4 linked regions of the Homo sapiens genome follow. The protein of the gene in region 3 interacts with the protein of the main gene of each other region in a pairwise test. Each region holds a gene or a part of one and is shown on either strand. Other genes may lie near its edges.

What was found. Proteins that work in one complex are often made in the same cells at the same time.
Region 1: the proteins of ZDHHC15 (region 3) and CELA2B interact in binary tests that used the Homo sapiens proteins (3 or more experiments, as listed by UniProt).
Region 2: the proteins of ZDHHC15 (region 3) and CERCAM interact in binary tests that used the Homo sapiens proteins (3 or more experiments, as listed by UniProt).
Region 4: the proteins of ZDHHC15 (region 3) and GOLGA7B interact in binary tests that used the Homo sapiens proteins (3 or more experiments, as listed by UniProt).

What each region holds. Positions count from the first base shown.
Region 1 is NC_000001.11:15,489,000-15,491,895, reverse strand, and holds the end of CELA2B (chymotrypsin-like elastase family member 2B preproprotein), read right to left. Parts: intron 602-2,896; coding exon 584-601; 3' UTR 501-583; downstream 1-500. UniProt on the Homo sapiens protein: Acts upon elastin.
Region 2 is NC_000009.12:128,423,857-128,427,356, reverse strand, and holds part of CERCAM (inactive glycosyltransferase 25 family member 3 isoform a precursor), read right to left. Parts: intron 3,220-3,500; coding exon 3,085-3,219; intron 2,948-3,084; coding exon 2,743-2,947; intron 1-2,742. UniProt on the Homo sapiens protein: Probable cell adhesion protein involved in leukocyte transmigration across the blood-brain barrier. Does not express any beta-galactosyltransferase activity in vitro.
Region 3 is NC_000023.11:75,367,927-75,370,482, forward strand, and holds the end of ZDHHC15 (palmitoyltransferase ZDHHC15), read right to left. Parts: 3' UTR 501-2,556; downstream 1-500. UniProt on the Homo sapiens protein: Palmitoyltransferase that catalyzes the addition of palmitate onto various protein substrates.
Region 4 is NC_000010.11:97,852,843-97,856,342, reverse strand, and holds part of GOLGA7B (golgin subfamily A member 7B), read right to left. Parts: intron 1-3,500.

The DNA.
Region 1 (2,896 bases), on a different chromosome or scaffold from region 3:
GCTGAAGCACCCCCGGACTGCAGTGTGAACGTGCTGTGCAATAGTGACACGCTGGGCTTCCCCACAAGGCTCCACCCTGAGGTCTTTTAAGCTGTCCTTATGCCAGCCTATTTCTTGTTTTTTGGGCCTTTTTTTTTGGAGATAGGGTCTCACTCTGTCGCCCAGGCTGGAGTGCAATGACGCAATCTTGGCTTATTGCAGTCTCGACCTCCTGGGCTCAAGAGATCCTTCCACCTCAGCCACCTGAGTAGCTTGGACTACAGGTGTGCACCACCTCTCCCAGTTAATTTTTGTATTTTTAGTAGAGACAGAGTTATGCCATGTTACTCAGGCTGGTCTTGAACTCCTGGACTCAAGCGATCAGCCTGCCTTAGCCTCCCAAAGTGCAGGGGTTACAGGCTTGAGCCATTGCGCCTGACCTATTTCTGGTTCTTAGGGCCCTGGATGTTAGGATGGATTTCTGAATTAATAATAATAATAAAACCCTCATCAAGATGTGATTTGCATAGTTGTCACTTTATATAATATTATTTTCCTTCTGTGACCTTTCCAAGTCTGAAACAGTCCCAGGGACTTCTTTTGGTTAGTTATTTGCAATCACCTGCAGGACACACACACAAGAAAATTGTCAGGTTCACGTAACCACAGAGCTGTGCGTGGCAGTTTCCTGTCTCTGTCCTCCTGGGCTAAGCTACTCAAGTGAGTCACAGGCAGCCCACACTACAGTAGCTCCTGCCTGAGGAGTTCAGATGATGTTTCGGAGAAAAAGATGCAATCACAGCTTTTCATTGACCTGTTAGGGTCTTCCTGTAAAGGGGGTCTTAGCCAGGAGTCCTGTGTGGGCTTCAGGTCAGGGGGCCTTCGAACCCCCTAAAAATTATATGCCAAATGTGCGGATGGCATATTTTTAGATTTCATTTGTTTCTCATCAAAACTGCTGTTTGCAAGGCAGTTATGCACTGTGGTTGGGGCTATAACTGTTTCCAGAGGCTGTTGATCAGTATCTGTTAAACTTTTTTTTTTTTTTTTTGAGACAGTCTTGCTCTGTTGCCCAGACGAGTACAGTGGCATATTCTAGGCTCACTGCAACCTCTGCCTCCCAGGTTCAAGCGATTCTCCTGCCTTAGCCTCCCGAGTAGCTGATATTACAGGTGTGCACCACCATGCCTGGCTGATTTTTTTGCATTTTTAGTAGAGACAGGGTTTCACCATGTTGGCCAGGCTGGTCTCGAACTGCTGACCTCAAGTGATCTACCCGTCTCGGCTTCCCAAAGTGCTCGGATTACAGGCGTGAGCCACCGCGCCCAGCCTGTTAAACATTTTGATATGCCAACTTCATGATCCAGTGCTGTAAACGGCAGGATATCCAGCTGCTACAGCACAAATACTCAAGTGTGCAAGAATTATGTCCAAGGATGTTCATTGCACAATGTAAGAGTGAAAAATAGGAAACATGAAAGCTGCATTCATTACACTCAAACTATGGAATACTATTTAGCTGTTCAAAAGAATGACATGTATGTACTGACATGTAAAATGTGATAAGGTGTTAAGTGAAAAATAGCTGCAGAACAGTATGAAGACTCAGATCCTAGTTTTTGCTTAGAAGACAGTGTCTATGTGTGTGTGTGTGTATATAGATAGATAGATAGATAGATAGATAGATAGATAGATATGCACATAAAGTTGAGAAGACCACACACCAAGCTTTTAACAATGATTGGCAGGGCGAAGTGGCTCACGCTTGTAATCCCAGCACATTGGGAGGCTGAGGTGGGCAGATCACCTGAGGTCAGGAGTTTGAGACCAGCCTGGCCAACATGGTGAAACCCCATCTCTACTAAAAATACAAAAATTAGTTGGGCATGGTGGTGCATGCCTGTAATCCCAGCTAGTTAGGAGGCTGAGGCAGGAGAATTGCTTGAACCCGGGAGGCGCAGGTTGCAGTGAGCTGAGATCAAGCCACTGTACTCCAGCCTGTGCAACAGAGCGAGACTCCATTTGAAAAAAAACAAAACAAAAACAATGATTACCTCTGGAGAGTGGAATTGGAGATGTAAAATGAGGGGGGACTTCTACTTTTTTACTTGATACTCTCCTGTATTCTTTTAATATTTTTACAAAGAGTATGTATTACCTTCTGGAAAAAGAATAAAAACTAAGGATTGCTGGAGTTCATGTGTGACTGTCATTCAACTGACATTTGTTGAAAGGATGAATGCCGCAGGCCACTTGTCTCCTCTGCTTCTCTGCTCTTATCTTTTGCTTGTACTTCCTGACCTTGGCTTGTCACCTGTCTGGGTTTATCCAGGCAGGTGCTCTCAGTCACCCCCAGGGCTCTAGTGGTACGTGACTCCAGGCTGCACACACTGTGTCCCTGGGTTGGGGCCACTTCAAGGTTTCACTAGCCCCTCTGCCGCTGCCAGGGGCAGCCCCCACCCAAGGACAGCTGGTTGCTTGGCTCTCCCCCTTCTGAAACCCGTTACCGGGCATCTGTGCCTGTCCCGACTGCTCTCCCATGAACACAGGGCCTCTGCCCAGCTGCCTCGGGAGGCGTGCTGCCCCGTGGATCCCTGCTGCCATCTGGCCATGCTTTGGGATCTGGCCTGTTCTGTTGTGCTTGTGTCTGTGGCTGGGAACAGCTGATGCTGGGAACAGCTGATGCTGGGACAACAGATCGGGACAATTGCCCCTGCCCCTGCTTCAGGTCCCCAGGATGCTGCCAGGACCAGCTGCACGGTGACTCCCACAGCAGCTGGGGCTGGAAAACGGTCTTAGGATTTGGCTGGGAAAGGCCCCTAAGCAGCCTTTCGTCCAGTCAGTCTCAGGCCAGGCTCCTTTGACGTGCGTGGTGCCTCCAAAGGTGGACTCAGATGGGTTTTTCCCAATTTAGATA
Region 2 (3,500 bases), on a different chromosome or scaffold from region 3:
CAGATCATTTGAGGTCAGGAGTTCAAGACCAGCCTGGCCAACATGGTGAAACCCCATCTCTACTAAAAATACAAAAATTAACCGGCTGTGGTGGTGGCCGCCCGTAATCCCATCTACTTAGGAGGCTGAGGCAGGAGAATCACTTGAACCCGGGAGGCAGAGGTTGCAGTGAGCCAAAATCGCGCCACTGCACTCCAGCCTAGGCGACAGAACAAAGCTCTGTCTTAAAAAAAAACAAACAAAAAACAAATAAAAGCTAACCCTATTCCCAGCATTGAGCACAGAGCCTGGCCCAGAGCCGGGATGTAGTATCTGGCTGTTAGAGACTGAATTCCTTCAAACCATTGACCAATTAACAACGGCTGTCGCTTGAAGTAGGGCTAGCAAATTAAAAATAACAGAATGCTTTTGTTTCCTCTTGTGTTTTCCCCTCCAATTGTTTCACCTTCACTCACTTTTTGCACTTGGTAAGATTTCTTCTTGCATGTCTGCACACTGCAGACTTCTCCAGCACAAAACAAAGAATTACAACATCCTCCTTACCGGCTGCCACTGATTACTTGATTAAATCGTCACCTCTAATTTACCCTGAGCACCTGCAAAGTTCTTCTCCATGCACCAGATAGTCTTCAGGGTCGGAATTACATATTCTCTGCAGCCTTCTCAAGAGCTTCACTCCAACATCAGTGTCTCCACCCCTCCCTCTCATCCTCAGGACTGGATTTTTTTTTTTTTTTAAGACAGAGTCTCGCTCTGTCGCCCAGGCTGGAGTGCAGTGGCGCGATCTCGGCTCACTGCAAGCTCTGCCTCCTGCGTTCACACCATTCTCCTGCCTCAGCCTCCCGAGTAGCTGGGACTATAGGCACCCGCCACCATGCCTGGCTAATTTTTCGTATTTTTAGTAGAGACGGGGTTTCACCGTCTTAAGATGGTCTCAATCTCTTGACCTCGTGATCCACCTGCCTCGGCCTCCCAAAGTGCTTAGATTACAGGCGTGAGCCACCGCACCTGGCCAGGACTGGATTTATTCCATCCAAACCCAAACACTTTCTTACTCTCTGTTTTTTTTCAGACAGGGTCTCATCTTGTGTTGCCCAAGGTGGAGTACAGTGGCATGATCACAGTTTACTGCAGTCTCTACCTCCTGGGCTCAAGCGATCCTCCTGCCTCAGCCTCCCAGGAAGCTGGGACTACAGGCGTGGGCCAACACGCCAAGTTAATTTTTAAATTTTTTTGTAGAGATGGGATCTCGCAGCCGGGGGCGGTGGCTCACGCCTGTAATTGTAGCACTTTGGGAGGCTGCGGGGGCAGATCACTTGAGCCCAGGAGTTCAAGACCAGCCTGGGCAACACGGCAAAACCCCATCTCTACAAAAAATACAAAAATTAGCTGGGCATGGTGGTGTGCACCTGTGGTCCCAGCTACGTGGGAGGCTGAGGTGGGGGAGGTCAACACTGTAGTGAGCTGAGATTGTGCCACTGCACTCTAGCCTGGGAGCCACAGAGCAAGACTCCGTCTCAAAAAAAAAAAAAAAAAAAAAAGGCTGGGCTGGGCTCAGTGGCCCATGCCTGTAATCTCAGCACTTTGGGAGGCTGAGGCGGGCAGATCACCTGAGGTCAGGAGTTCGAGACGAGGCTGACCAACACGGAGAAACCCCGTCTCTACTAAAAACACAAAATTACCCAGGCGTGGCAGTGCATGCCTGTAATCCCAGCTACTCGGGAGGCTGAGGCAGGAGAACTGCTTGAACCCGGAAGGCAGAGGTTGCAGTGAGCCAAGATCACGCCATTGCACTCCAGCCTGGGCAACAAGAGCAAAACTCCATCTCAAAAAAAAAAAAAGGGCAGAAAAGAGATGAGGTCTTGCTATGTTGTCCAGGCTGGTCTCGAACTCCTGAGCTCAAGTGATTTCCCCTCCAGCCTCAGCTTCCCAAGACTTTGAGATTAGGGTCTGAGTCACCTTGCCTGGCCATACCCAAACTCTTTCTAGTAACTTTCATCTTGGCTGGGCGCGGTGGCTCACGCCTGTAATCCCAGCACTTTGGGAGGCCGAGGCGGGCAGATCACGAGGTCAGGAGATCGAGACCATCCTGGTTAACACGGTGAAACCCCATCTCTACTACAAATACAAAAATTAGCCGGGCGTGGTGGTGGGCGCCTGTAGTCCCAGCTACTCGGGAGGCTGAGGCAGGAGAATGGCTTGAACCCGGGAGGCGGAGCTTGCAGTGAGCCAAGATCGGCCACTGCACTCCAGCCTGGGCGACAGAGTGAGACTCTGTCCCAAAAACAACAACAACAACAACAACAAAAAACCTTTCATCTTAAAAGTAACCACTGGCTGGGCGGGTGGCTCACACCTGTAATGCCAGTACTTTGGGAGGCCGAGGCGGGTGGATCACCTGAGCTCAGGAGTTTTGAGACCAGCCTGACCAACATGGCAAAACCCCGTCTCTACTAAAAATACAAAAATTAGCTGGGTGTGGTGGCGGGTGCCTGTAATCCCAGCTACTCGGGAAGCTGAGGCAGGAAATCATTTGAACCCGGGAGGCAGAGTTTGCAGTGAGCCGAGATCACACCAAAAAAAAAAAAAAAGAGAGAGAAAAGAAAACTCATGACCCAAAGTTGTAACTCATGGGTTAACAGGATGAAATGCAGAGTAGGGAAGGGCATGGTAAGCAGCTGGAATAGCATGTGCAAATGTGCAGAGGCCTCCAAGGAATGCTAAAGGAGGGCTGGTCCTCACCAGCAGCCTGGCAGGCATAGGCGAAGACGATGATGTCGTCGAAAGGCCAAGTGTAGTTGGGATGTGGCGGGTAGAAAGCAAGCTGGTCTGCCCCTTCAGCCCGCAGGGATGCAAGGAAGGTGGAGTGGACCATGGGGACACGGAAGCAGCCCCGGCGCTGGCGGTTCTTGGTGGGGAAGTACTCGGCTGTGCGGCGGTAGTAGCCCTGGGGAAAAGGGATGCTTTGGGCTGTGAGAGGGCTCCCCTGCCCCTGCCCACAGACCCCAAGGCCTCAGGCTCTCTGCTCTCCACGTCCCTCCTTCCAGGACCTCAGTCCACCCAAGGCCCCCATCCCGGCCTCACCTGGGGGGTGATCCCACACCAGAAGTTGGAGTAGTAGGTCTGGGAGTCCAGCATTGGGGCCACCACTGGAAGCCCCTGCCCCATGAGAAGCCGCAGAGTCTGATTGTTGGTCAGAATGTTGTCTGTGTCTGCAAACTTTGAGGAGGGGACGTCACAGGCTCCAGCCCTGCCTGGGCTGCAGCCCCCCAAGGAGTTCACTGAGTGGTCCTGCCAGAGACCCAGCGTGGCTCCTAGGATCCAGTGGGAATGCTCTTACAGAGGTCTCACAAACTCAGTACATCTGTTTCTGGACCAAGGCTCTAGTCTGGGGCACTGACTCAGGGACTGGGTCCAGAGATTATACCTGAGTTACTGATCTAAGACCTTTATCTGGGATCTGGCTTAGAAAATGGATCCAAACACCTACTCTGAGCTCT
Region 3 (2,556 bases):
CCCAGTGTCTGTTGTTCCCCTCTATGTATCTTTTTTCAGGTGACATGCATCTGGAGAATAGTACACATAGCCTTCAGTGTAAGAAAAAGCAAACCAGAGTTCACTTCACCCTTAGGCACATAAGAAAAGTTCTTTCTTTTTCCTTTCATCACAATGGCAGAGTGAAAGGCAAAAGATGTGTGAGGCTGAGTAGAGACTGAATGTGATTAAGTGTCACTAGACTGGTCAGCTTTCTATCTAAAAGCCATTGCAGCTAATTTCCCAATTCATATTCATGTAGGAACATAAGACAGAAATACCGAACACATGGAAGGGGCTGTTCAGAAGGTGAGATGTTACAGAGAAGTCTACATACCACGCATACCAATCAACCTGAGTGAACAAACATCACTATACCCCTATGAAATTAGATGTATAGAAACTTCCTTAGAGTAGTCTGAAACTTTAGGGTTTGTCAACATTGTTTAACAAAGCCACAATTTAGGAAAAAAAACCAACAATTATATGCATATACTTTTAATGAAGGATATAGGAAGATAAAGCTGGCCAGCATTTGTCAATATTTCTGCACCAAGACACATGGTTTTAAGAATACTATATACAATCATTTTGAGCAGATTGGTGGGAAAAATAATTGTAGCAGATTGGCAACCTATGCTTAACTTCTGAGGTCTCCTTTTCTGGCACTCTAATATAGTTCATATATTACCAAGACCCACTGCCAGCTTTCCTTTTATGTTCCTTCACTGATTAAGCCAGCAGAGTGAAAGTAATTATTCCTTGAATGCATCTTATCTAATTTTTTTTTCCTTTAATGCCATTCCCTACTAACAATCTATTTCCTGGTATATTGAATTCATTGTTGGTTTTAACTCATTCTGCTGATGGCTGTGTACCATCCTGCTACAAAGAACACATTTAATGGTTTTGAACACTGTGCAGGACACAGACCTAACCCTTTTAGGGAAGTAAACAGTCATGGGTTGCATGCTACTAGGAGCCACCCATTCATTATTATATAATACCCGCATGCAAAAGGCTACAATTTAATATGGTACATTACAGCTATGGTTAAAGAAATGCAGATGTACCATACCTCATCAACCAATTCCTAACGAGATGGAACTCATTAATTTTCTAAGAATATGGATCTTGTCCAAGGGCCTGACAATCTCATTAGATGCCCCCTGTGCTTCTCCATAGAACGTCTTCTGTACCGAATCTCTTAGCTACTCTGAGAGCAGAGATTCTGGAATGTATAAATCTAATGTTCTTCACATGCTGTGTTTCTTAGACTCTTTTTCTAAAAGGAGAAAACAGATAATCATTCTTTTAAATTAAAGTATTTGCTCCTGCTGAAGAGGCAGCCTGCTTTGGAGAAAATGTGTATGTGTGTGTGTGTGTGTGTGTGTGTGTGTGTACATGTGCATACATGTATGTAGATATGTGTGATGAGAGGTGAAAAGAATAGGCTTTCAATGACTGTTACATTCCTATGAATTTGGGCCCTGTTAAATTAATTTTAGGTTCATGTTACAATAATGTATAATATTCAGTATTCTTAAAACTTACTTGCTAGGATTGTGCTTAAATCTCCATTAACCTCAATGTCTATACTTTGTGCAATTTGGTATAAACATGGAGTGCATTCTTTACCTTGGCAATGTCTGCCCTGAGATTGGGCTCTATGGTGCCACAGGAGGTAATGGCACTGGTTGATGCCACATAGTGTGAAAAATATGTGTCACATGGGGCTAGTAGGGGAAAGAGGCACATATTGCATTCTTATCACATAGAAAGTAAGAGTTGTACAAATTGCATACTTTTCAGATTTTTGACAAAATGTGACTCTTTCAGAATGTGATCCTGTTGTAATTACTCTCAAAATTCTAACTGCTCCATGATAATTCCAGTCCTGGGAAGCCAAGTTACTTTAACAATGTACTGAACATGGTAACTGTGAGCCCTGCATAAGACAGCTGTGTTCCATTGGGGACCACTTAATCTCTTTTCCCCTTAATTTTTCCAGCTGTACCATGGGGAACAATTTTTTTATTCTGTCTCTTTCTGAGGACGCTGTTGGAGTGAATGGAAGAACATTAACAAAGTGCTCTAAGTCCTGCAAGAACAAATCAGCAATGAGAGCATGGACAAAAGAATGGAGTACATTATTTTGCTTAGAAATACTGTATGGTTAAGCTTTTCATTCCAGTCCTATAATTAAAGACATATAAGAGCACTAGAAAGTGACATAGCACCCTTCAGCAGTAGGATCCTAACAATGAGTATCTTCATTTTGCAAACGGAGAAAATGAGTATCAACAATTAGGGAATGAGATTCCACAGAGGTTATTGGACAGGGATCCAAAGAAAAGCAAGCAAAGAAGCCAGATCAGGGTGTGCTAATTATTAAATAAAGTTCTGTATTCTTGATTAATAATCAACCAGTTGGGTACCTATGTACATTAGTCAATACTCAAATGATCCATGGATAGGGATATTATCAGAGTCTATAAACCAATGAGACCAAAATGCTAAGATAGGAATAGGTTTTCT
Region 4 (3,500 bases), on a different chromosome or scaffold from region 3:
AGAAAACCAAATACCACAAAACACACTTTCTCACTTATAAATCTAAGCTAAACAAGAGGTACACATGGATATGAAGATGAAAATAATAGACACTGGGGATTCCAAAAGAGGGGAGGGGGTGAGGGTTAAAAAATTACCCATCGGGTACAATGTTCACTACTTGGGTGATGGGTACACTAGAAGCCCAATCTCCACCAATATGCAATATACCCATGTAACAAACATGCACATGTACTCCCTGAATCTAAAATAAAATAAAATTTAAAAACAAACAAAAATCTTGGGAAATAATAAATAACTAGGAAAGGTTATCAATAAAGTAGAAGGAGCAGATAATTGGTAGATCAAGGTCCTGAAAAGGTGGGAATCCAAAAACACTATATGTGACTTTCCTAAATCCAGGTGGACCTTGCTGTATGTACGAAATGTGATCTCAAAGTATTGTGACTGGATTAAATAATGTATAAGCCCTCCTGTAGGCTTATATGAGTTGATTCCTCTAATCAAGGTTTTCATTGAGGAAATCCCCTTGATATCTACTAGGAACCTATGATAACTCGGAGAAATAAGGAATGCTTTGGTAATATAAATAAGTTAATTGTTAACATGTCTGCTCTGGTTAAGGTTTTATAATGTTGTATTTTCAAGAGTAAAGAACAAGGCTATGGCCTTCCTCTGCCCCTCTAAAACCAACTTATGAAAGTCAGTCAATCTTGAGGATGGACTCCCCTACCCCTAGAAGGCTCATTCTAGCAGTTTTGTGGGAAGTGGACAAGACTGGGGTGAGGGGCCAGTTGGAGGGATGATTCTCTTTCTAATAGTCCATGGAAAAAACTAAAGAGGTGGTGAGAAAAGCAGTGGTGAGAATGGAAAGAAAGGGAAGAAACCATTCTGATATGGACTCAGCTTCCTGTCCTCTGACCCATACAAAACCTGCTGTTTTGGTTACTATAGCCTTGTAGTATAATTTGACGTCAGGCAATGTGATGCCTCTGGATTTGTTCTTTGCATAGGATTGCTTTGGCTATTCAGGTTCTCTTTTGGTTCCATGTGAACTTTAGCATTGTTTTTTCTTTTTTTAGCATTGTTTTTTCCAATACTGTGAAAAACGATGTTGCTAATTTGATAGGGATTGTGTTAAATCTGTGCCTGAATGCACACATGTGTACACACATATTTGTGTGCTGTCCTGAAGGCGTGTGTCTCTAGCGACTGGCTAGCTACTGACCCAAGCCATTTCTTCTTCCTCCTAGGCATACAGCTATATTAATTCCCAGCCTCCCTTGCAGTTAGGTGTGTCCCTATGACTGAGTAGAATGTGAGAGGAAGTGACGAATGCCATGTGTAGGCTTGATTCATAAAGATGTACCATTTCTCCCTGCTCTTTCCCCTTTCATGGAGGCTGGTGGAGCCCTGTGTTGAAGATAGTGACACCACAAGTTGGGAAGAGCCTTGGTCCCTGAATCACTGAATCACTGCCTTGAATCACCGCCTGGAATACCTGTTGATCAGGAACACTTACCTGGAACTTCACTGAGCAGGATACAAACTTCTATTGTATTAAGCTATTAATACATTAAGATTTGGGGGTGCTACCTTACATAATAAATTCCCATTTCCTCTTGGCTTTGATCCACAGGTTCTCAAGTAGCCAGAGTAGGATAAGTCAACACCCTTTTCAGCACCAACAATATCCTGAGCCTTAGACTACTATCCAGGCTCTGGGTGACCAGAGATCTGCTTCTCTCCCTGGAGAGTGTTTGTGGAGGAGCAACTCTGAGGAGTTGCTAAAGGATGATATCAGACACATTTTATATGGCAGAGCCTTAGTCTCCCAGACCTACATAGAGTACATATATTACAGACTCATCTGAAGTTGGTGAAGAGCCGGATTTAAGGCAAGGCAGGGTCTCCTGGTTTTCTCCATTCATGGTGGCTTGAGTGTGAAGTGCCAGGAAGCCCTAGTGGAAAGATGGCCCACTGACCTGGGGGCAGGAGACCTGACCCTGGGCCACATGGCCCTGGGAAAGTCTTCCCTTCTCTGCACCTCCATTTCTTCAACTGGAAACTAAGAAACTGGAACTACATCATTGCTCAAGCCCCTTTCATCTCTGACATTCTAGAGGCTTTATCAGGGATTATGAATGCAAATGTTTACAGGGGCTGAGCAATAAGTGGGCCAGGTGGGGCCTGGGGCTAATTAGAAAACTGGTGCCCCATCTCAAGGAGACAGATGACTATTGCCACGTGGGAATGTATACCCAGGTTGCCAGCACTTCTGGTGTCTCAAAAGAAGCCAGAAATCTAGATCTTTTTAACATCAAATATTCTGATTTTTGAATATTTCCAATACATTTTTAAAATGTATAAGCACTCAACAGACTAAGTAAGGCACACCCATGGACCAGACTCATTTCTAGAGCTGCTAGTTTAAGACCTCTAAATAAAGAATCCCATGGCTGGGGCCCCTTGGGCAAGAGCTAAGCCAGGCTCCAGGCCACTGGCCAGCTACTAAGTTTTCAGAAAGCTGGTGGGGTTTTCAGCAGAGATCCGTGATGCTCTGAAATCCTACCAGAGGATATCAAAATATGTGCACAACTCTCTCTGAAGCTGCAGTTTCTGTGTTTCCCCTGGGTGTCTCCCAGGGGGTTCTTAACTGACCCAGAGACCTGAGCCTCTCTCCACTTCTCACCTTCCTCAACCCTGCCCCTCTCTCCCATTGCCACCCCTGGCTCACTGGCAGCAGAGTGAAGACAGGGCCGAGAAGCATTTCATAAGGAAGAAAATCAGTGGTGAGACCCATGGGTACCAATTTTCAAACTGCAGTATGAGAAGGAGGGGGAGTCTGCCTGGAGAGTGGGTACCACAGGTCACACATTTGGCTCCTGTTCACCTGACAGTCAACTAGCTGGGGTGCAGAGGAACAAGCTCTAGAGTGCAAATGAGCTCCTGGTCCAGTCTGCCCAAGTCCAACAGGAGTGCCCCCCTGGCGCCATCTTCATCCTCATTAAAAACCATCTCATTCCATAGGATGCATGTGAGGCATCGAGAATTAGGAGGTTCCGCTGATGCCAGCACTCTGCTTCCTGGCTGGGGTGTGAAGGAGGAGTGAGGATCATGAGTCACAGACAGCCAGGTCAGGCCTAAGGATAAAACACCAGCCACAAGACCTCCCTTCTTCTCAGCCTGTACCAGTGCTCAAGCCTGACCCAGTTGTCTACTCATCATTAATTCCATGCCTCAAAGATCAAACCTCCAAACACCCTGCTTGAATAACGCTACTTGGATGCATTTAAAAATCTCTTAGAGACCAAACCCCACCACTTGGAGAAGCCCCTCCCAGCCAGGCACTTCCCAGTTGTCCTTGGCCATCTGGACTATTTCCCAGGGCAGACCCTGCTCCCAGTGACACACATTCACAGAGGTTTGCTGCTCAGAAAATGGGCTCATTGCAGCTCTCCAAATGAGGTCAGTGTATCACTCAGGAGGCTCCATCCCTC